3 linked regions of the Homo sapiens genome follow. The protein of the gene in region 1 interacts with the protein of each later gene in a pairwise test. Each region holds a gene or a part of one and is shown in the gene's direction. Other genes may lie near its edges.

Region 1 (7,333 bases):
TTCTCACTCATATTCTATAGTCCAGTGAGGGTCTAGGGGACAGGGGTAGCTCTGCTCCATCCATTCATTCAAGCCTAGGTTCTTTCCATTATGTGGTACATATGGCCTCTAAAATTGTCACAGAATGGGAAGAGGGAATGCAGGTTGTATGGAAGATTTTTAAATGAGCCCAGCCTAGAAATGGCGCACATTGCTTCTGCCTTCATTCCATTGTTCAGAACCTGATCCCATGGCATCCGTTTGACTGCAAGGAAGCTGGGAAGTGTAGTTCAAATTTGGGAGGTACTGTGCCCAGAAAGAGACACACAAATGTTGGTGTGTGTTGTGGAGCACTAGTAGTTTCTGGCGCAGGCAGGGAGAATGGCTGTGCATCTTGTAGGGGTCGTAGTAGTGTCTGTCCTGGGCTGGGTTGGGAGTGTACTCTCTGAGAATACCTTGGAAGGAAGCTGATATGAGAAGATGTGTATGAGTGGTGCACACCCATGTGCTTTATGGCTCAACAATCATTCCATTCTTTCCCATTCTCAAGGTCTTTCACTGGATAAGATCTTAATTCTCTCACACCTTACCACTGAAATAACCTTGTGAATGCTTTATCCTCTACAATTTTCCCCCATCAAATCTAACTGGATATTATAGTCTAACTAATCTTCCTAAGACTTGGCGTATGTCATGCAATCCCTGTTCAATAAAAACAATAACAATTTCAACAGCAGCAGCAATAATTTGTTGAATTACTGTGTTGAGCACTTTGAGTGTATTATCTCAATATATCTCGATCTTTGTAACAAGCCTGTGATGTTTCATCATCATTCCCTGTGTACAGATGGAGGGACAGGAGTCCTGGGTCTAGCTGTGCTAACACAGTAGCCACTAGTCATGTGCAGCTACTTAAATTAATTAAATTAAATTTAAATTAATTTAAATTAAATACACTAAACTTAAATACATTAAATTTAAATTAATTTAAATTAAATACAATTAAAAATTCAGTTCTTCAGTCACACTAGTCACATATCAAGTATTCAATAGCCACCTGTGATTAGTGGCCACCATTATGGAGGGTGCAGATATGGAATATTTTCTTCCAGGCAGAAAGTCAATTGGATTGGACATCTGTGAGTTAGGGGCACTTGCCCAGGGTCACAGCAAATGGTGAAGCTAGGCCTCTGACCCCACCTGAGTCTAATGCTCTGCAATAGCTCTTCATTGTTTCCACAATTTAAAAAATGTTTAAGCCTGGCCTTAGCCTTGTACAACCTGGTCTAGTACTACTGTTACATAATTATTTCTCTTTCTTTTCTTGCGCAATCTCACTTTCCAGCACAGCAAGCTTGCTCACTGCTCTCCCATACTCCTAATATGTCCACTCATAATATTTTTGCTCTCCTCCTTCTGTCTGCTCAGCTAATGAATTCTCCCCTGACCTTTAGGTTCAGATAGCTGAAATAGCTCTTGAAGCAGTTTCGTCTCTTCCATTCTCTCTGCTTCTGCCTGGACCAGCTCTGAAGCCCCTCATCCTCTCTTGCCATGGCAGCCTTCTGCTGCTACTAATTCTACTTCCTGACATTTATTGAGTATCTACCATGTGCTAGGCACTCTTCCAGGCACTCCTCATCACAACACTTTGAAGTAGGTGTTACTGCAGTCTCCATTTTAAAGACCTGGTAATTAAAGCACTGTGGGGTGAAATTTGTCCAACTCATCTCTCTGCTTCTAGTGTTTCACAGGCAGTTCGCCTTCACTCTATTACTCTGGCCATAGTTCTAAAACACAGAATTGTGAGTTTTCTCCCCCAGCCCCAAGGGGAGGGGGACAGCCTTCTTAACAGAGCATGCAAGGCCCTTTATGTTCAGAACCTTTCTAATCTCCAAACCCGCTACTCTACCTTCAAACTTGACATTCCAGCCACAAACGACTTACAGTTTCCCAAAGCGGCCGCTTTATTTCTTCCCTCTGCGCCATCACACGTGCGGTTCCCACTGCCTGGAGTACTGTCCATCCTGGCCAGCTCTGAAGCCATCCATGGAAATGCACTCCGGACCACGGGGCTTGCTCCCTCCTCCACAGGACCAGCACTCACTCTCCACCGGCAGCTCCTAAAGGAGGGCTGCTGCTGAGCTCACAGCCTTGACATCACTTCTCATTAAAATACACACTCCAAGATTCAAAATTTAATAGGCAGGGGTGGGGCTGGGTTTATTTTTTTATTTTTAAAGAAGCTCCCAGATTATTCTAGAGTGAGGCAAATGTGCTTAACACTGGTTTACATCCCTTGTTTGGCAGTTAAGCACACCCTGTCTAGATTCCTTGTGTATAATTGCTTTTGTTTTTATTTTATTCTTACCTTCATTCACTCACACTCACCTATTCAACAAACATTTATTAAGGGGTCATTATATGCCAGACATGCTTTTAGATGTTGATGTGAACAAAACTGGCACTGTCCCTGCTCATGAAGTTTATGTTCCAGAGGGGGTGTGGTGGGTGGGATAATAATGGCCCCCAAAGATGTCCACGTCCTCATCCCAGAACCTATGAATATGTCACCTTCCACGGCAAAGGGATTTATTTTGCTGATGTGATAAAATTAAGGATCTTGCGATGGGGAGATTATCCTGGACTATCCCCTCAATCACAGGGGTCCTTAGAAGGGAAAAGGAGGAAGAGGGAGTTAAGGCATGTGGGTAGCCTCACTCTAGAAGCTGGAAAAGGCGGCCGGGCACGGTGGGCTCACACCTGTAATCCCAGCACTTTGGGAGGCTGAGGTGGGCGGATCACCTGAGGTCAGGAGTTCGAGACCAGCCTGGCCAACATGGTGAAACCCCATCTTTACTAAAAATACAAAAATTAGCTGGGTGTGGTGGTGGAAGCGTGTAATCCCAACTTCTCGGGAGGCTGATGCAGGAGAATCACCTGAACCCAGGAGGCAGAGATTGCAGTGAGCTGAGATCACGCCACTGCACTCTAGCCTGGGTGACAGAGCAAGACTCCGTCTCAAAAAAAAAAAAAAAGTCAAGGAAACTGATTTTCCCCTAGAGCCTCCAGAAACAAGGCAACCCTGATGTCCCCTTGATTTTAGCCCAGTGAGACCATTATTTGGATTCCTGACCTACAGAACTGTAAAATAATAATAAGTTTGTGTTATTTTAAATCAGTAAATTTGTGGTAATTTGTTACGGCAGCACACACACAAAAAAAACTAATGCAAGGGGTATTGGTTATGTTTTGTGCAGGTATATGATGGGCCTCCCCATGTGGATCCTTAGTGCTGTGGCAGAGCCCTTGTTATTGTGCTGGGATTTTCCCTCCAGCTCCCGGCCGGAAGCTGGGCTCACGTGGGAGCTCAGTGCCCTCCTGCTACAGATCTGTCTCTTCCTTACAATGGTATGATCCCGAGGGTCAGGGTGAGGGGTTTGGGAGGATAAGGCTTGTGCTGATAAAAGGAAAGGTGAGGTCCGTTGCAGTGGCTCAAGCCTGTAATTCCAGCGCTTTGGGAGGCCGAGGTGGGAAGACAGCTTGAGGCCAGGAGTTGGGGACCAGCCTGGGCAATATAGCGAGACCCTATCTCTACAAAAAATAAATAACAAAAAATACTAGCCAGGCGTGGTGGCACACACCTGTAGTCCTGGCTGCTTGGAAGGCTGAGGTGAGAGCATTGCTTGAATCCAGGTGTTGGAGGATGCGGAGCTATGATGGCGCCACTGTACTCCTGCCCGGGCAACAGAGTGAGACTCTGTTTAAAAAAAAAAAAGTAGGGATTTGTGGGGAGCTGTGCGTGAGGATAGAATGTATAGAATGTTTGCAGTCAGAAGGTGATGGTCGCAGGGGTTCCCAGACTTTAGTGTGTGGAGAAATCCTCTGCGATATGGTGGGAGGGAACCTGGTTGATAGAAGGACGGGCGGAAGGAATTCTATTCACAGCGTACTCTAATATTTCTTAAGTTTTACCTATTAATTTTTAACAAGAAATTTTAATTTTAATTTTAAACGAAAATACGCATCGTACTCAGAGGTAAAGATTTTTAATCCTCGCGGTTCGCTCGTATAAAGGCATATTTCCGGTCCCTTCCAAGGTCCAACAATCCGGACACGGCGGGTCTGGGGATGGGCCCAGGAATCCGCCTTTTTAGCAGCATTCCCCCAAACGACACGGCAGCTTCGCAAAGCGGCGGTGGCGTCTGCGGTTCCGGGCGCGGGCGGCCTCCGGCCGGGGAGGGCGCTGTGCGGGCGGCGCTGGGGGCGGGCCGGGGGCGGAGCGCGGGGCGCCGGCTGCTCTGGCGGCTCCCGCGGCTCCGGCTGGCGGCTTCGGGCCCTGCACCTGTGACTCTCGGCCGCGCTCGCCCTCGGCCCGCCCGGCGCCGCAGCCCCATGGCCCCGTCCAGGCTGCAGCTCGGCCTCCGCGCCGCCTACTCCGGCATCAGCTCCGTGGCCGGCTTCTCCATCTTCCTCGTCTGGACGGTGGTCTACCGACAGCCGGGGACCGCGGCCATGGGAGGGCTCGCAGGTACCCCGGGACGCTGGGCGGCGCGGGGCGGGTGCGCGGCTGCGGGGCGGGCGCCGTCAGCTGCTCCAGGACGCTCCCCGCGAGCGGCGCTTCCCCGCGGAGCGGGTGGAGTGTTTACTCGAAAACAGCGGTTGGCGGCGGCAGGCCCCACGCGGGCCCGGGCTCCTGGGCATTCCTGGGTGCCTCTGAGACCCGATGCCCGCCCGGGCGCCACCTGGGGGTGCCGACGGCCCGCCACTGCCGGCTGCACAGACCTGCCGCGCCGCCCGGGTTATCTGTCACGGCACACTGCCTGTCGCCCTCCGCCCAGTTGCCCCACGACAGTGTCCCCTCCGCGCGCCCGCGGCGCTGGTCGCCTCCTATCCCCAAACACACACACACACACACACGCACACACACACGGTTGTTCTGAGGGATCCCCTGCCCCCCAGGCGCCCCTTCCCTGGGTGCTGGGTGAGGGCAGAGAGGGAAGAAGTGGGAAAGGAAGAGGGCTAGGGGTGGCTGGGGAAGCCCATCTCCCTCCTTCCAGAGGGCTCCCCCGCAGAGCCCTCTGCTGAGACCCACAGGGAGGACGGCGTTAGGGATCTCATAGAAACTGGACATTCTCTTTCCACCCATGTTGGTGCCTTTTTGCTACCCGTCTGCTGTGGCTCCTCAGCCAAGCTCTGCCAAATCCTGCAGGCCAGCCGCCCTTTCTGTGCTTCTGGGAGGGAAGGGGAAGCATCGGTGCGCTGATGGGGGCTCTGGGCTGACCAGTGCTCCTTGTTGTGCACATTTGGGCTCGCAGTTTAACCTCTCTGCGCCATAGAATTGGTATGAAGATGAAAAATATTATCTCTACTTTCTAACATTTTAAAAAATGCTTTCTATGTGTCAGGCACTATGTTAAGCAACCTGCTTCCCTTATTTCATTTAATCCTTACATTAGTCTCATGAAGTAGGCCTTACGATTATGTCCATTTTACAGATAAGGAAACTGAGGCCTGAAGTTAAATAAATTGCTTACCCGGGATTACACAGCTACATGAAATAATATGTGTGGGAAAGGACTTTGGGAAGAAAATACGTATAATACTTTTACATATGATGATTATATTCCATTACTAAAATCCTCGGCCAAAAGAACCCTAAATGGAATAACTAAAAATAACTAATTTACTCACTGCCACAGGGAGTGCTGAGTGCCATCCCTGGGTAGAGTCGCAGCATGAGGTGGGGTTAATGCCTTAGAAGAGGGGCATACAGGGCCCCACCCTACACAATGCCAACAAAGCACTGGGTCACCAAGAAGGGGGGATGGGCACCCTGGCTAGGGTGTTCTCTGCCTGCCCAGCTGCCTCACCACCTGTGGGATCCTGAGGACAACTGGCCCATCTCTGCGCGTTATCTACAGAGCCCTAGTTCCTTTCCCCACTGCACCCCGCCACCCTCCATGTTTGTCAAGGTTCACTTCTCCCTGCCACTTTTTTGTTTCCTATTGGCCCTGTTGCTTTCCCCTCTGGAAGGCGGCGTCAGAGCCCTATGATTGCATTGCGAAGACCGAAGGCAAGAGAAGGATGAGCAGGGAGGGCCAGCCTGGGATCTCAGCTGGTTGTGTTGAGTCTGGCCTGGTACAAGTGGAGGTGAACCCTACCTGGCCGTTTGACCCTATCCTGGGCCACAGTTTCCTCATCTATTAGGAGTGGGAGGAGATGTCCCCAAAAGACATCTGACTTCCCTCCAGATCTGAAATCTTGCAGTGCTGCCCACTCCCTGAGTCTCCAGCTGCCTCCTAGAGGGCTGTGGAAAAGGCCTTCTTTCTTATACTCTAGGGAGTTGCCTGGGGTTTTCTTCCGACCCAACTCTGCCCTCTCTCCCTCCCCACAGGCTTCCCTTGGCCTATGAGGCAGGCCAGCTGTGGAGCTGCCTTCAGAGAGAGGCGCTAGGGCAGCAGCTCGCTAGGGCAGCAGCTCGCTAGGGCAGCAGCCAGCTGGAGTAGGGTCCTGGTATCTCCCTGATGGTCTGATCTTTGACAGTGGCTGTGGAAGAGCCAAAACTGCTTGGTAGTGGTGGTGGTGGATGGTGGCAGGGAGAGGGGTTGCCAAGCCTGGGCCTCCGACCTTCCCCACCATGAGTGAGTTCTCAGAGGGTCTGTGGCCAGTCAACCTTCTTCCTCTTTTGGGGGTAAAGTGTCAGCAGATTAACTAACGTGTGAGCACCCTACTTCTGACTCAGCGTTTTATAGCTCAGAATCTGCTGAGTCACCCAAGGGTAGCCCCAGCATGCTCCTTCTCCTGTGTTGGACCAGGCAAGGACTGATTGGATGTGCCAGTTTCTGGAGCAGAGTCATGGAGCCCCTGGGTCTGGTGGGCAGAGTGTTCACGGGTGGGGATACCCTCTCCCATCCTGATGGGTACCTTCGAAGAAGTGGCTTTGGAGAAAGGCAGTGGCAGAAGCAAGACTGGCTTTCCTGGGGAGGCGGGCAGGTGTGGGTTGGATCTACCTGGTCTGGCTTTGCTGTGGGAGTCCTGGGGGAAAACACAAACTCTTGCTCTGGGTTTAGTAGACCAAGGAAAGAGAAAAAGAAAAGTTGCTCCTGAAGTCTAAACAGCTCTATGTTTTTCCCAGGTGAGCTGTGAGCAAGAGCCCTGGGGCTCCAGGACTGTCTTCCTCCTAGGAAGGAATAGAGGGGCCTGACCTAGGCCCAGTGTCCTTCTTGTCTGCATTTACCCTGTGGGATCCCCCGGGTGTCTCCTGTCTCCTCACCTCCAGCCCAGCCACTGGGGATGCTTTCACCGCCCTACCCTATGCCTTCCTTACCCTTAGCTTATCGGCTGTGAGCCAATA
Region 2 (7,130 bases), on another chromosome or scaffold:
AGAGACAGGGTTTCAACACGTTGGCCAGGCTGGTCTCAAACTCCTGTCTTCACAGGATCCTCCCACCTCAGCCTCCCCAAGTGCTGGGATTACAGGTGTGAGCCACTGCGCCTGGCCCAAACCAGGGCTTCTTGATGAAATCATGGATTCCAACTGTGACCTAGAAATGCCCAAGGTGAGTTTAGCCGTAATGTTGGTAACTGGGCTGGACATAGTGGCTCCCATCTATAATCCCAGCATTTTGGGAGGCCGAGGCGGGATGCTCACTTGAGCCCAGGAGTTCACAATAAGCCTGAGCAACATAGCAAACCCTGTCTTTTATACAAAAGTAAAAATAAATTAGCCAGGTGTGACAGTGCGTGCCCGTAGTTGGAGGTGCTTGGGAGGCTGAGGTGGAAGGCTCAGTTGCACCCAGAAGGATGAGGCTGCAGTGTTGGGCAACCCAGCCTGGGCAACACAGTGAGACCCTACCTCTAAAAAACATTTTTTAAGTAGTAACTGAAAGGCGGGTAATAGTGGTAGGCAAGGCGGGGATCATTATATTATTCTACTTTTATTTAAAATATCCTTTAGAATTGTTACAAAAAGACTACTTATCTCAATTTTTACCTATCAACCACTACTTTATTTCAAATACTGAGCCCATGTATCAGCTTCCAAACCTGAACTCTTGTGGCAGAAACTGCAGAAGAAAATTTCAGGAGCCTGTTTCTTGTGCCAAGCGGGAAGCTAGGCCCTGTGGCCTGAGTCATGCAGCACGTTTGCAACTTCAGCTTCTTGGACTGGTTAGGCTGACAGGTGACCACACAGCCTCTTGTTCTTGTTTTGTAAATGACTAGGAGAGACCAGAGACCAGACTTCCCCGCTTCCCATTACTGATCTTTGCTGTGGACCAGCCGCCTCCTTCATTGTCCTGTGCATCTGTCCTAACTCAGACTAGATGGCACGACGACCCCGTGACGTAGTCCGTGTGGAACGCCAAACATACCTTTCCCAATAGGAAAAGACCACCTTGGCTAATCGGAGCACAGTAACTGTGCATTCACCCTCAGAGAGAAAGATGCTGGAATTGTGTTAAGTTTCCCTAAACTTCATCTATAGAAATGATCCCAAACTGCTACATTTCAGAACACCGACTTCTGTTCTTTGGAATCTGTGCTTCCTGGGCGGCCTGTCCTCAAACTTTGCACTTGAATAATCTCTCTTTAAAGTAGATTCTGACTCTTGATTATTTTAGGTTAACAATGTCTTCAGGGAAATATATTCCACACTGAATTCCTAACTTAAAAAACAAAGAAAAGCTATAAAATGTGAAAAAAAAAAAAAAAAAGGTCAGGCGCGGTGGCTCATGCCTGTATTCCCAGCACTTTGGGAAGCCAAGGAGGGTGGATCACTTGAGGTCAGGAGTTCAACAGCCTGGACAACATAGTGAAACCCTGTCTCTACTAAAAACACAAAAATTAGCTTGGCATGGTGGTGCATGCCTGTGATCCCAGCCAATTTTTTAAAAATTGGCCAGGTGTGATGGTGTGCACCGGTAGTCCCATCTACTTAGGACGCTGAGGTGGGAAGGCCGCTTGAGGCTGCAGTGAGCCTTGATTCCAACACTGCACTCCAGCCTGGGAGACAGAGAGAAATCCTGTCACAAAACAAAACAAAACAAAAAAGAAAGAAGGGGGAAGAAAAGAAAAAGGAAAGAATCAGAAAAAGAAGAAAAAAAGAAAAGAAAAGAAGGGAGGGAGGGAGTAGGGCATCACTTTGTCTAAATAATTGTAACCACAAAAAAGTGGAGACAGGTGAAGTAAATAGATGAGTATGGCCAGAGCATGGGGCAGCAGCAGGAAAGGAAAGAACAGATATGTATGGTTTGGACTAGATGAGTGTTTCTGAGCCTTTTTTTGATAAATGCCCTCCCTCCGTTCTGATACACACTTTAGGACACAGTGTGGGAATCATGTCATCTCTGAACCTCCTTCAACCAAGATTTTGTCCAGCATTAGATTCTATTTTTGCATTGTTAAGCAGGTTTTTGTTTTGCACCATAAAACTGTAATATTCAGTATGCTTGTTCAAACACCTCTCCTACTTTCTAAACCCTACTTCTAGCCTCCTTAAGAAGCAGTGGATCAGAGGAGTCCCCGAATTTAAACCTCCAGAGTTTCGCGTAATTGTCTCATTCCACTGCAGGGGAGAAAATATAATTTCTCTTCTTTCTCTCTTTATTAGTTGAGACATTCTCCTGAAAACAAAATTCAGAGCAACAGGAGAAACAAGCAGAAGTTTATTAGCACTTGCTGTACCCATCGTGTGAGAGGCCTCAGTTCAGAAGTATTTCTCTCTCAAGGCATGTTGTGAACAGCACAAGGTCAGACATAACCAGGTCCACACACGTTTATGTCTTTCCACAGGGTGGGAATATATTGATGCTATTTCAATTATAAAAGCCACGAGCTACGAGGAGTTGCCTCGAGACAATTCCCTTCAGTACTACTTGTTAACTTGGTAGAGCCATGGGCAAAGGCTCAAGCCAGTCCACGTGTCAGTCAATACTGCAAACTATACATCATAGTGTACTTAAAATACAAACGCTATGGTTTAAACATTCCCCATCAAACAAAGTAACATTGGACATCAAGAGAAAGAGGATAGGAAAAGGGGTTAATGGATCAATCCAAGGAAAGCAATGACGGGAACAAGGAGTGTATTCCAGCCTGATCCAGACAGAAGTCATTGTCTTCCAAGGAAGTCCTTGATGTGAGCAGATCCTTAGGCAGCAGATGCAGGGTGCTAAGCACAAGTGACAGCAAGGTGGGGTCTATCAAAATGCCAGTGTTGAATTGGTCAAATCCCGCCCTTTTTAAGGTCACAGTCCTCTGGTGAGGACTGATAGTGAGTGCCTGGTCCTGTCTTTATCTGGCTGAGTGCTGTCTCTATTAACTAGGTGCACATCCAGTCCCCGTTGCTATGATGCCTTTTGAAATGTAAGATTAAATCTTTTTCTAAGATGTAGGTACTTATGCGACGGGTGCTTTATACAAAGCAGTAGCGTAGGGGCCTTAATTAAATAGTATTTTAACAAAAGGCCATAAATCCTATATGATGACAAGCCAAAAAACAGAGCATCTTCAGACTTCTAAAATGCAGGAGCCAGGCGCCGTGGCTCAGGGCTGTAATCTCAGCACTTTGGGAGGCCGAGGCGGGTGGATTGCTTGAGGTCAGGAGTTCGAGACCAGCCTGGCCAACTGGTGAAACCCCGTCTCTACTCAACATACAAAATCAGCCGGGCGTGGTGGCGCACGCCTGTAATCCCAGCTACTTGGGAGGCTGAGGCAAGAGAATCGCTTGAACCCGGGAGGCGGAGGTTACAGCGAGCCGAGATCGCGCCACTGCACTCCAGCCTGGGCGACAGAGCGAGACTCCGTCTCAAAAAAAAAAACAAAGTGCTCGACAGGAACTTTCTGTAAGCCAAAGAGTATCGCCATCGCACCTTCACCTTCACCTTGGGCAGCCTGGTGCCGTCTTCCCTCAGCCCGCGATTAACGAGCGGAAGGCCGCACTGACCCATTTCAGATCCCTTATTTCCTTCCTAAAACCACTCAAGAGTTTGGGCACAGTGGCCTCCCTGTGTGAGGAACTTGCTTCCCACTCACCAAAAGACAAACCCTTCGCCCATCCCTGGCCGCGCACCCGGCCGGTCACCCGCGCTGCCACCCACACCACCCTCCTGTCCATAAAGAGCCCGCGTTTGGGACGCCTCGCAGGCTGAAGGGAGGCCTGGGCGTCCGCGATCCGTCTGCCCTTTCTCCCCTCGCGGGCTTCCTCTTTCCTCACTTTCTCCCGCCACTACTCTTCCTCTTCCTTTTCCGCGAACCCAGCCCACTTCCCGTTTCAGGACCTCGGCTCGGCCCCAGTCCCCCGGACCAGGCCGGGTCACGTGGGTCCAGGGTCACGTGCCGCTGCGGGTCACGTGCCGCTGCGGGTCACGTGTCGGCCTGCATCACGCGTGAGGGGGCGCGCGGTGCTGGAAGCTGCCGCACCTGCGGGGAGCCGAGCCGCCGGCGCTCGACGCGCGCGCTCTCGCGAGACCCGCGGGATCACGTGACGCCCGGGCGCGGCGCAGCTCACGTGACAAGCGCTGCCGGCCGCGGTGTCTTCTTCGTGCCGGCGTCGCAGTGGCCGGGCCTCTTGCGTCTGGTAACGCCGCTGTCTCTAACGCCAGCCCTTGGCGCCCGCGCCCCGCCACCGCAGCGCCCGGCAGTCCGCGGCCCAACCGCCGCCCGCGCCCCCGCTCCCCGCACCGTACCCGGCCGCCTCGCGCCATGGCGGCCCCCGGCAGCGCCCGGCGACCCCTGCTGCTGCTACTGCTGTTGCTGCTGCTCGGTGAGGGGGTCGAGGCGGGGCCTGGGAGCGGCGGGACCGGGCGGAGCCGAGGTCCCTGGGTCTTGAGGGCGGGGGACTGCCGGGTCGTTGTCCCGCGGGTCGCCCCGCACCCACTGCTCCTGGTCCCGGCCGGCTCTGCCCGCGGGCGGGTGTTTCTCTCGGGGTCGTAGGGTCGGAGCGGAGCTCAATGGCAGGTGCTTGGGGGACCAGGAGGTCTCATCCCAGGACCTGGCTCCTCTAAGGTCTGTCTCACTGAACTCAGTTTTTCTGTGGTGGTGAGTGCGAAAGGGAACTTCCGATGGCTTGCTCGGCGGTCTGGTGCTTTCAGGTCGTTAAGTTTCCTGGCAAGTTGAGGCGGTGAGATCTAGACGAGGCTGCGCCGCCGAAGGTGGCAGGGACGTCTGTGGTCTCAGCTCCCGGGTGGGTGACCTAGATCAAGCTCTTCCCAACATGGATTTCACCCAGGACAGGGAGAAGCCGGTGCGAGCATTCCCCACCTTTGTACTTGAACCTTTCTCCTCTTTCAGCGGTGTGGAGGAGATGCGAGTGTATTTATGTTATTGTGAATTCACATGTATGTTAAAATAATTTTTAAAGTTATCTTTGGGATTTCACAAGATTCCGTAGTAGACAAGATGAGGGAAAGCTGGCCTCAGACTCACGGTGGCAATGTTCATGTCTAGTAAGTAGTTTAAAGAGCGCCGTTCCTGTAGGCCGAAATGCGGGACCAGGGAACACGTGGGGAAGCACCCTTCTCTTCTGTCAGTTTATAGAGCTCAGATGGGCAGTAGGTGCTCAATATTGTATTGACTAGTGAATTTCGTTCTCATTTATTGTCTTAATAAGAGGATGTGTGCTGTCTCTTTAAGACAGTCCGGATTGCCCCCCGCCAACACTATTCTTTCACCTCCTCCCCCCGCCGCCCTCCCCCGTAATATGAGAAGATTATCTTAAATGCCAGGATCTGAAAGGTGATGTAGAATCAAGCTGGGGGAGTGTGTGTGAGTTAAGTAGATATAGAAATACACTCCTGTACACATCTGCCTTGACTTCTTTAAATCCCTCAGTCCCATCCAGCTGTAAAACTCTGTTACTGTGAGTGAATGGATCTTGGCTTCCCTTTTTTGTTTTGCCTGTTGTGTAAAATGAATTCTTTGAACTGCCTGAATAGCCACAGAGATGAACTTATTCCAATAGTAAGCCTGAAGCCTTGCTCAGCTCCTGCGACAGGGTCAGGTGTAGTTAATGAAAGGAGTTGCAGAAACAAGTTTTGTCATGTCACAGCAACTGCATTGTTCTTTGTTACAGATGCTCACAAGCCTCATAACTTTGATGTTTTGTTTCATGTTTTAAAAACTCACTTCAGGCCGGGAGCAGTGGCTCACGCCTTTAATCCCAACACTTTGGGTGGCCGAGGCAGATGGATCATGGCGTCAGGAGTTCGAGACCAGCCTGGCCAATATGGCGAAACCCGGTCTCTACAAAAATACAAAAATTAGCTGGGCATGGTGGCGCACGCCTGTAATCCCAGCTACTTGGTAGGCTGAGGCAGAAGAATTGCTTGAACCCGGGAAGCAGAGGTTGCAGTGAGCTGAGATCAAGCCACTGCACTCCAGCCTGGGCAACTGAGGGAGACTCCGTCTCAAAACAAAAAAAAAATTAACTTTAAAAATGAAGAGAAAAAATCCATAACTCCCTAATATTGTGATTGGAATATTGCTTGTGTAATCAGTCTTCTAAGATCTGTTCCATTATATCTTTTATGTTTACAATCTTAACTTTTTTTTTTTGAGGCGGAGTTGCTCTGTGCCCAGGCTGGAGTGCAGTGGCACAACCTCGGCTCACTACAACTTCTGCCTCCTGGGTTCGAGCAATTCTTCTGCCTCAGCTTCCTGAGTAGCTGGGATTACAGGCACCCGCCACTATGCTAGGCTAATTTATGTATTTTTGGTAGAGACTAGGTTTAACTATGTTGGTTAGACTGGTCTCGATCTCCCGACCTCGTGATCCGCCTCCCTCTGCCTCCCAAAGTGCTGGGAGTACGGGTTTGAGCCACCGTACTTGGCCCAAGAATTTTTTTTTTTTTTTTTTGAGGCAGAGTCTCACTCTGTCACCCAGGCTGGAGTGCAGTGGCGTGATCTCCGTTCACTGCAGCCTCCGCCTCTTGTGTTCAAGCAGTTCTCCTGCCTCAGCCTCCCTAGTAGCTGGGACTACAGGTGCGCGCCACCATGCCTGGCTAATTTTTGTAGTTTTAGTAGAGATGGGGTTTCACCATGCTGGCCAGGCTGGTCTCGAACTGACCTCGTGATCCACCTGCCTCAGACTCCCAAAGTGCTGGGATTACAGCCATGAGCCACCGTGCCTAGCCAAAATCCAACTTTTAAAAAAGGCCTTTTAACAACTTGCATTTAAAGATATTTAAAATGTTTATTTTAATGTGCGATTTCACCAAAAATCCTTTTTTCTTAAAAAAAGAAACTGCTCAATTACAAATTTCCACTATATTAATAATTAGGCATTGTTTAAAGCTACTGTGTTTGAATACTTAGAAAGCTCAAACATGAACTGAAACTTGTCCTGATAGATAGGATTAGCTGTGATTGCGTAATGTGACCCTTTAAACCATTGATGTCAGCAGGATGACCGCCTTACCCTTTCCACTTGAACAACTGTCACTTAGGAGGTTTGAACAATTTTATACTCGGCTGGGTGCAGTGGTTCACGCCTGTAATCTCAGCACTTTGGGAGGC
Region 3 (7,452 bases), on another chromosome or scaffold:
CACAGGAGGTGGAGGTTGCAGTAAGCTGAGATCACACCATTGCACTCCAGCCTGTGTGACACAGCGAGACTCTGTCTCAAAAAAAAAAAAATTAGAATGGTCCTGATGTGGAGCTAATGGACCCTATGGCCTGTGTGTGAGTAGGAGGTATGCTACCATCTGAAATTTAGTGTGTTTTAAGTCTACTAGTGTTTAAAACTATCAAAACAATACTAATGGCTTTCGCTTATTGAGCATATACTATGCCCTGGGACTGCTGCTAGGCACTTAGTAGACATCATGTCTTTGAATCTTCTCAACAACCTAGAATATAAATATCAGTATTTTCACAAGTTTTATGATTGAGGAAACTGATACATTAAACTAACCTGCCCATAGTCACACAGCTAGGTCATCAGGAAAGCTTGAACTTGGTTATGAAATCTGTTCCATGGCTTCAACCGAAAACCTACATGTAATCTGAGGAAAGGTGGAAAATAAAGTATCTGCCAAAGAGAGTGAAAGTGACTTCCCCCAGGCCACCTCACCTGTACCAGAATTGTTTGTTGTCTGACAACTTTGTGTTGGATAATTCTTAAGAAAGGATATAGGCTTCAAGTTTCTCAATCTTCTTTTTCTTTCTTTCTTTTTTTTTTTTTTTTGAGATGGAATCTTGCTCTGTTGCCCAGGCTGGAGTGCAGTGGTATGATCTCGGCTCACTGTAACCTCCACCTCCTGGGTTCAAGTGATTCTCTTGCCTCAGCCTCCCCAGTAACTGGGATTACAGGCGTGTGCTAACACACCTGGCTTATTTTTGTATTTTTAGTAGAGATGGGGTTTTGCCATGTTGGCCAGCCTGGTCTCGAACCCCTGACCTCAAGTGATCTGCCCACCTCCGCCTCCCAAAGTGCTGGGATTCAGGCATGAGCCACCATGCCCGGCCTTGTTTCTCAATTGGGCTGCCAGACAAAACAGAAGGTGCCCAGTTAAATTAGAGTTTCAGTCAAACAATTTTTCAGGTAAAAGAATGTTTTAGGGCCGGGAGCAGTGGCTCATGCCTGTAATCCCAACACTTTGGAAGGCCGAGGCAGGCGGATCACAAAGTCAGGAGTTTGAGACCAGCCTGACCAACATGGTGAAACCCTGTCTCTACTAAAAATACAAAAATTAGCTGGGCGTGGCGGCACATGCCTGTAATCCCAGCTACTCCGGAGGCTTTGGCAGGAGAATCATTTGAACCCAGGAGGTGGAGGTTGCAGTAAGCCGAGATAGCGCCACTGCACTCCAGCCTGGGAGACAGAGCAAGACTCCGTCTCAAAAAAAAAAAAAAAAAAAAAAAGTTTTAGTATAAGCATGTCCCATTCAATACATGGGCTGTACTTGTACTTGTACTAAAAAGTTACCCATTATTTACCTGAAATTCAGATTTAATTGAGTGTCGTGTGTTTTTATTTGCCAAATCTGCCAACATGGGGAGCAGAGGTCAGCAAGGTTCCAAGTTGCCCCTGCCTCTTGTTATCAAGAGTTTAGGGTCTTAATCTGTTGCTAAAAAAATTTCACACATTTCTTATTCAGAGGCTGGTATTCCTGGCAGCTCATTCCTGAGGCCTAAAATAGTTGTTTAAGCAGAGCAACAGTTTCAATCCTTGGAGGCTACTATAGCAAAGTACCAAAGTCTGGGTGGCTTATAAACAAGAGACATTTATTTCTCACTGCTCTGAAGGCTGGAAGTTCACAATCAGGGTGCCAGGGTGGTCTGGTTCCAGTGAAGGCCCCCTTCCATGTTGCAGGCTGCCAACTTCTCATTGTATCCTCACATGGTGGAAAGAGGGTAAGAGAGCTCTCTGGGAGTTATTCTTATTTTATTTTATTTTATTTTATTTTATTTTATTTTATTTATTTTATTTTATTTTATTTTATTATTTTATTTTATTTTATTTTAATGAGCCAGGGTCTCACTTTGTTGCCCAGGCTAGAGTGCAGTGGTGCAATCTCAGCTCACTGCAGCCTCCACTGCCTGGGCTCAAGAGATCCTCCTGCCTCAGCCTCCCATGTAGCTGGGACTACAGGCATGTGCCACTATGCCCGGCTAACTTTTGTATTTTTAGTAGAGAAGAGGTTTCGCCATGTTGCCCAGGCTGGTCTCGAACTCCTAGACTCAAGCAATCCACCCACCTTGGCCTCCCAAAGTGGTGGGATTATAGGTGTGAGCCACTGGGATCTCTTTTATAAGGGCACTAATCCCATTTAGGAGGGCTTCACCTTCATGACCTAATCACCTCCCAAAAACCCCATGCCTAATCCCATCACATTGGGGGTTAGGATTTTAGAGGAACAGACATTCAGTCCATTGCAGCAAGTAATTGGGAAAGCATAGGAGAGGCTGCGCGTGGATTTTTTTAACCCAACCACTGCATGTTCCTTGAGGGCCAAGTCCTGATGCTATGGAGAGATGCTAGGATCCCAGCCCTGGAGGAACACATGATGTGATGGAGGAAGCATCTATCACACAAAGACAAGCAAAACTCTGCTGGCCCAGCCAAAAATGCCAGAGGTGGAAGGAATTTGAAGATTCACAGAGACGCCCCTAGATGGCACTCTTAAACAAAAATCCCAGTGGAAACCCTAACTCAGCTTTCCAAAGCAACTTCCATTTAGGGAATGATGATTGGAAGGCTGTAATCTAAGGAAACACACACACACACACACACACACACACAATCTTTTCCTGGGTGGGGAACCCAGCATTTTGCAGCTGAACAAAGTGCATGACGCCAGACAAGATTGGCTAAAACTTAAGAATTTAGGGATTCTTGTCTGTCCTATCCCCACCATTAGCTCTTCTTTCTGCTATTGTGGAATTACAGCAGGATTCTGTGGTTTATCATATCATTGTCGTGATCATCATCATAAATCATCATCCCAAGCAAATATTTTTGAGCCCCTACTCTGTGCCTCAATAGGTGCTAAGTTCTCGACAGCCACAGCCACACTATTGCACCAGTCCTCACTACAACCCTGTGATTGCTTCTTTTTTTTTTTTTTTTTTTTTGAGACAGGGTCTCACTCTGTTGCCCAGGCTGGAGTGCAGTGTCTTCACTGCAACTTCTACTTCCCAGGTTCAAGCGATACTTCTGCCTCAGCCTCCCGAGTAGCTGGGATTACAGGTGCGCACCACCATGCCTGGCTAGTTTTTATATTTTTAGTAGAGATGGGGTTTCACCATGTTGGCCAGGCTGGTCTGGAACTCCTGGCCTCAAGTGATCTGCCCACCTCAGCCTCCCAAAGTGCTGGGATTATAGGTGTGAGCCACCGCACCCTGCCAGCTTTTTGTTATCTAAAGACTTATTTTCCAGGTTGCTATGGCCACAGGCAAAGAGGAGAGGTCGGTCAACACAGGTCCCTGTCTGGAAAGTGGCTGAGAACTGTGCAACAGCAGACCAATGGTTGGGCTTATCCCTCTCTCTAATTTATGGTTGAAGCCATGGTTCAGAGAGGTTACTTAGTCACACAGTAAGTTGCCATCATGCTCTATAGCAGTGGTTCTCACCTCGGGACGATGGGGCCTTCCAGGGGACATTTGGCAATATTTTGAGACACAACTGGAGGTGGGGGGGGGCGGTTCTTGTAACTGGCATCTAATGGGTAGAGGCTAGGATATTGCTAAACATTCTACAATCCACAGCTCAGAAACAGAATTATTCCGCCCCAAATGTCAATAGCATACTATTCAGAAACCTTACTCTATAGGGCAGATTTGGGGCCAGGGGAAACAGGGGCTCCTGCTCCGACTTGGATCCATGCAAACCGAGGAATTTGGATTGATTTATCTTGTCTCTCTCAGCCTGGACTTTTTCATGTGTAAAATGGACATCCAATCCATCTGAAAGGATCTCACTGGCTTATGACATTCGCATTTGAGCAGTCATGGTTAAAAACTTCCAGCCAGGGTGATACTTCATCACGTGTGTGTCTTGAGCGCCAGAGACGTTCCAGAGCAGCTGGTTTTAGGCATACAGGAGGGGAAACCCTGACACCCTTGGAAAACTCATTCTCGGCTGCCAGTCTGCCTGTCTTGAAGGTGGTCTGAGCTTTCTCACTCCAAGCCAGTCGTGTGGGAAGGGACACTCTCTGAGCCTCAGTTTCCTCAGCTGTCAACCTCTCAGGGCTTGTTCTAGTGGCTCCGAAAGCCAGTGGGAGCGAGCGCGCTTTGCAAAGCCTTGGGCGCCGGGCCTTGGCGCGCCTTTGCCGGATCCTTCCGGCCACGGGCGGGGCGAGCCCAGAGGAGAAGAGCCGAGGGGCGGTGCCCGGGCCAGGGGGCGGAGGCAGGCGGCTCTGGCTCCCTCTCGGGACGCTCTTTCCTTCTTCCTCTTGTTCCTCCTCCTGCCTCTCTTCGCTTCGCCTGCAAACGCGGTGGGGGCTGCTCGGCGGTCAGGAGCAGGTGAGAGCTCGGAGCTTGGGGGTGGGGGTCCGGGTGCCCCGGGTGGCTAGACCCCTCTCGCCGGGCGGGGACAGAGGAGGAGCGCGGGGGCGACGGCGTGAGCGCGCTATCGGGGTCCCACGCCCGTAGCTTTCTGCCCCGGGGTTAGTGTAAGGGGCGTCTCCTGCTTATGAGTCGCCGGGACGGGGCTGGGAGCGCACGAGGAGACACGATTCCTCCCCACCCCTAAATGCACACTCACCCCGCCACCCCCCAACACACACACACATACACACACACACTACCACTAGATTAGGTAAAATGGTAGCTAGCACCACCACACCCCGAGACTGTGCCCCTTTCTGGGGAACCTGGGGAAGACGTCGAGGCAAACCTCCCTAGGATTATTGAAAACGGGCGCCTTCCTCACCACCCAGCCCCTCTTCTCCACCGAGGTCCCCTTCCCCATCGCTGCAGAGAGATCTGCAAGTATCAAAGGGGGCTTCTTTACCCCCAAATTAATAACTAAGTACTCGACTCCCCTCTGAGTTCCCATTATTCAGTCTCTGTGCCTTCTGGGACGCGGACCCCCTCTCCACCTGCATTTCACTCCCTTCCTCCTCTCCTTGGGTCTCCCTGGCTTTTGAACGCTGAAAGGCTGGGCCCGGATGGGGAGGGGCGGCCAGTGTGAGCTCGAGGCGCCCTGTAGCTCCCATCCCCCAACCAGAGATGTGACCCCTCCTCCCAGCTTGAACTTTCGAGGTAGCCGTTTTCCCCTGGAGGTTCGGGGGTGGGAGGGCCAGGAGATTTATTTGGAGCCTTGGAAGGGGAAAGGGTTAGCTGGTGTTGGCCTGGCCCAGTCCCCCAGGCGTGAAGAAGGCGGGGCACTCCTTGGCCGCGCCGGGTTCTCGCTTTCCCTTCTCGGGAGACAGCTCCGTGCCTGGGGAGGCCCCTCCGAGGAGTGAGTGACCAGGGGGTCTGGGAATTGGTGGCCAGGTAGACGCATTTGAAGGCTGTGGCCGATGGCATTCGCCCCACGCACTCTCTCATCGGACTCCCCAAACCGGTCTGGGTGGCACTTGAGGCTCCCAGGCCAAAGGAGACCTGTAAGGGGAACTCCGCTTGTTTCTGCTTGCTGCAGAGATGAGATTATGGGAACTGAGTGCTGGGAACATCCCAAGTTCAAGACCTACGCCAGAGGCAGCTTCAAAGAGAGAATGTGGGGTGGTGGGATTAGTCCCCTCCTCAACTTTCCCCTCCAAAGGGTTTCTTGTTTTACAAAAGGGAAGTAGCAGAGGATGTCTAGCTGGGATGATTAAAATGTGCTTTAATTTGCATACTAGACCCTGTACAGCTTAGTAGTAGATAAAATTACCCCCTATATGATAAATAAATGTGAGGATCTCTCAATTAATTTTGGCCACGTGGACACAATCTTTTAAGCATTTGTACTGTAGGTCAGGTCAGTTTAAAGGGAGAAATGGAAAAGATATCTCTGTGTCCAGCCAGTTCTGGGAAATATAAAATAAGAATGATTTTTTTTTTATATTTGAAAACTCAACAAGGGTTAAAAAATATATCTAATTTAACCAATTGCCTTTATTAAAAATAAGTAAAAATTGTATGAGATTGGGACACCCCTCAAAATTCCAGGCAGTTTAGTTAGAGTATAATTACTGTGGTGAGGTCTGCCCCCGAGGTGCAGTTCTCCTTAGCAGGGATAGACTTACCCACAAGTAAGTAGATGATGATGTATGGAATGATGGAATTGGGAGCCAACCTGTACAGTAATAAAGAAGAGAAACAGGTCAAGGCTACTGTTGTACAAGGAAAGCTTTCTAGGGAGAATAAAAGGCAATGAGATTTGAAATAGTGTGTTCAGCTTTCTTGCTTTCTGTATATTTTCAGCATTTTGTCAAGCTAAAAAATAAACATAAGCTGTCAGAGATAATACTATTAACATTTTATCATCTTTTTTTAAAAGTATCATACACATCTTTTCACATCACTAAACAGTCACACTATCATTTTAATGACTGAATTTATCATTATTTAACCAATTTTCTCCTAATGGAAATACAGTTAGCTACTTTCCAATGTTTTGCTAGTCATTATATGTTATAAACAGGGATGCAATGCACAGCCTTTTAGTACATTTTGAGATACCTGTTGGATTATTTCCATCATGTTCCTGGAATATAAATTCCTGGATTGAAGTGTGTGCAATCTGAAATTGTTGTGAATATTGCCAGGTTACCCTCCGTCTGCATGCCCACCATCAAGGTATGAGGATGGTAGAAGCTCTCGTCGAACCAGATGGATGAAGACCACTAACGGCTTTTGTTTCCTCTGGTAACAGCAAGAGACAGAGCGACATGAGAGATTGGACCGCGGGCTGCACTGGAGAATTTACTGGTAGGATAATTCATCCCTAAAGAGATTGAAGTGAGCTTCAGAATGGCAAAAGAGGAGCCCCAGAGTATCTCAAGGGACTTGCAGGAACTGCAGAAGAAGCTGTCTCTGCTGATAGACTCCTTCCAGAATAACTCAAAGGTCAGTTTCCAATCACTATGTATAATGGAAAATCCCAATATAACACTAGCATAAACAAGATAGAAAGTTATTTCTTTCTCCAGTAGAAGGAATTTGGAGGTAAGTCAAGAATCTTTCTGGCTTACCGCCCTGCCATGTCTATGCTGTGACCTTCAAACTCCTTGTCTGAGATGACTGCAAGAGCATCAGCCATTGTATCCATCTTTCAGGCAACAGGATTTGAGGAGGGGGGAAGAGAGAAGTGCAAGCCACCTACAATTTAAGGAGACTTCTGGGAGTCGCACACAATACTTCCAATTACATCCCTTAAGCCAACATTGAGTCATTTGCCACTAATGGCAAATGCAATTCTTTAGCTGGATAAAGAAGTCTGTGCAACAGATATCATCCTTTTTTTGGTTTTGTTTGGTTTTGTTGTGAATTTTGCCCTATCTGTTACCCTGAAAATGAGAGACAAAAGCCTACTTCAAGATTTGAGTTCATTGTTCCACTAGGAATCC

The links.
Region 2: the proteins of SLC48A1 (region 1) and LAMP1 interact in binary tests that used the Homo sapiens proteins (3 or more experiments, as listed by UniProt).
Region 3: the proteins of SLC48A1 (region 1) and LDAF1 interact in binary tests that used the Homo sapiens proteins (3 or more experiments, as listed by UniProt).

The regions. Positions count from the first base shown.
Region 1 is NC_000012.12:47,768,934-47,776,266, forward strand, and holds the start of SLC48A1 (heme transporter HRG1), read left to right. Parts: upstream 1-4,304; 5' UTR 4,305-4,371; coding exon 4,372-4,507; intron 4,508-7,333. UniProt on the Homo sapiens protein: Heme transporter that regulates intracellular heme availability through the endosomal or lysosomal compartment. In macrophages of the reticuloendothelial system, is the heme transporter for heme-iron recycling.
Region 2 is NC_000013.11:113,293,116-113,300,245, forward strand, and holds the start of LAMP1 (lysosome-associated membrane glycoprotein 1 precursor), read left to right. Parts: upstream 1-4,123; 5' UTR 4,124-4,319; coding exon 4,320-4,380; intron 4,381-4,523; exon of another isoform or gene 4,524-4,622; intron 4,623-7,130. UniProt on the Homo sapiens protein: Lysosomal membrane glycoprotein which plays an important role in lysosome biogenesis, lysosomal pH regulation, autophagy and cholesterol homeostasis.
Region 3 is NC_000016.10:21,154,327-21,161,778, forward strand, and holds the start of LDAF1 (lipid droplet assembly factor 1), read left to right. Parts: upstream 1-4,347; 5' UTR 4,348-4,420; intron 4,421-4,998; coding exon of another isoform or gene 4,999-5,115; exon of another isoform or gene 5,116-5,133; intron 5,134-6,651; exon of another isoform or gene 6,652-6,758; 5' UTR 6,759-6,856; coding exon 6,857-6,952; intron 6,953-7,452. Other genes in the region: DNAH3 (dynein axonemal heavy chain 3), read right to left, coding at 4,999-5,115. UniProt on the Homo sapiens protein: Plays an important role in the formation of lipid droplets (LD) which are storage organelles at the center of lipid and energy homeostasis. In association with BSCL2/seipin, defines the sites of LD formation in the endoplasmic reticulum.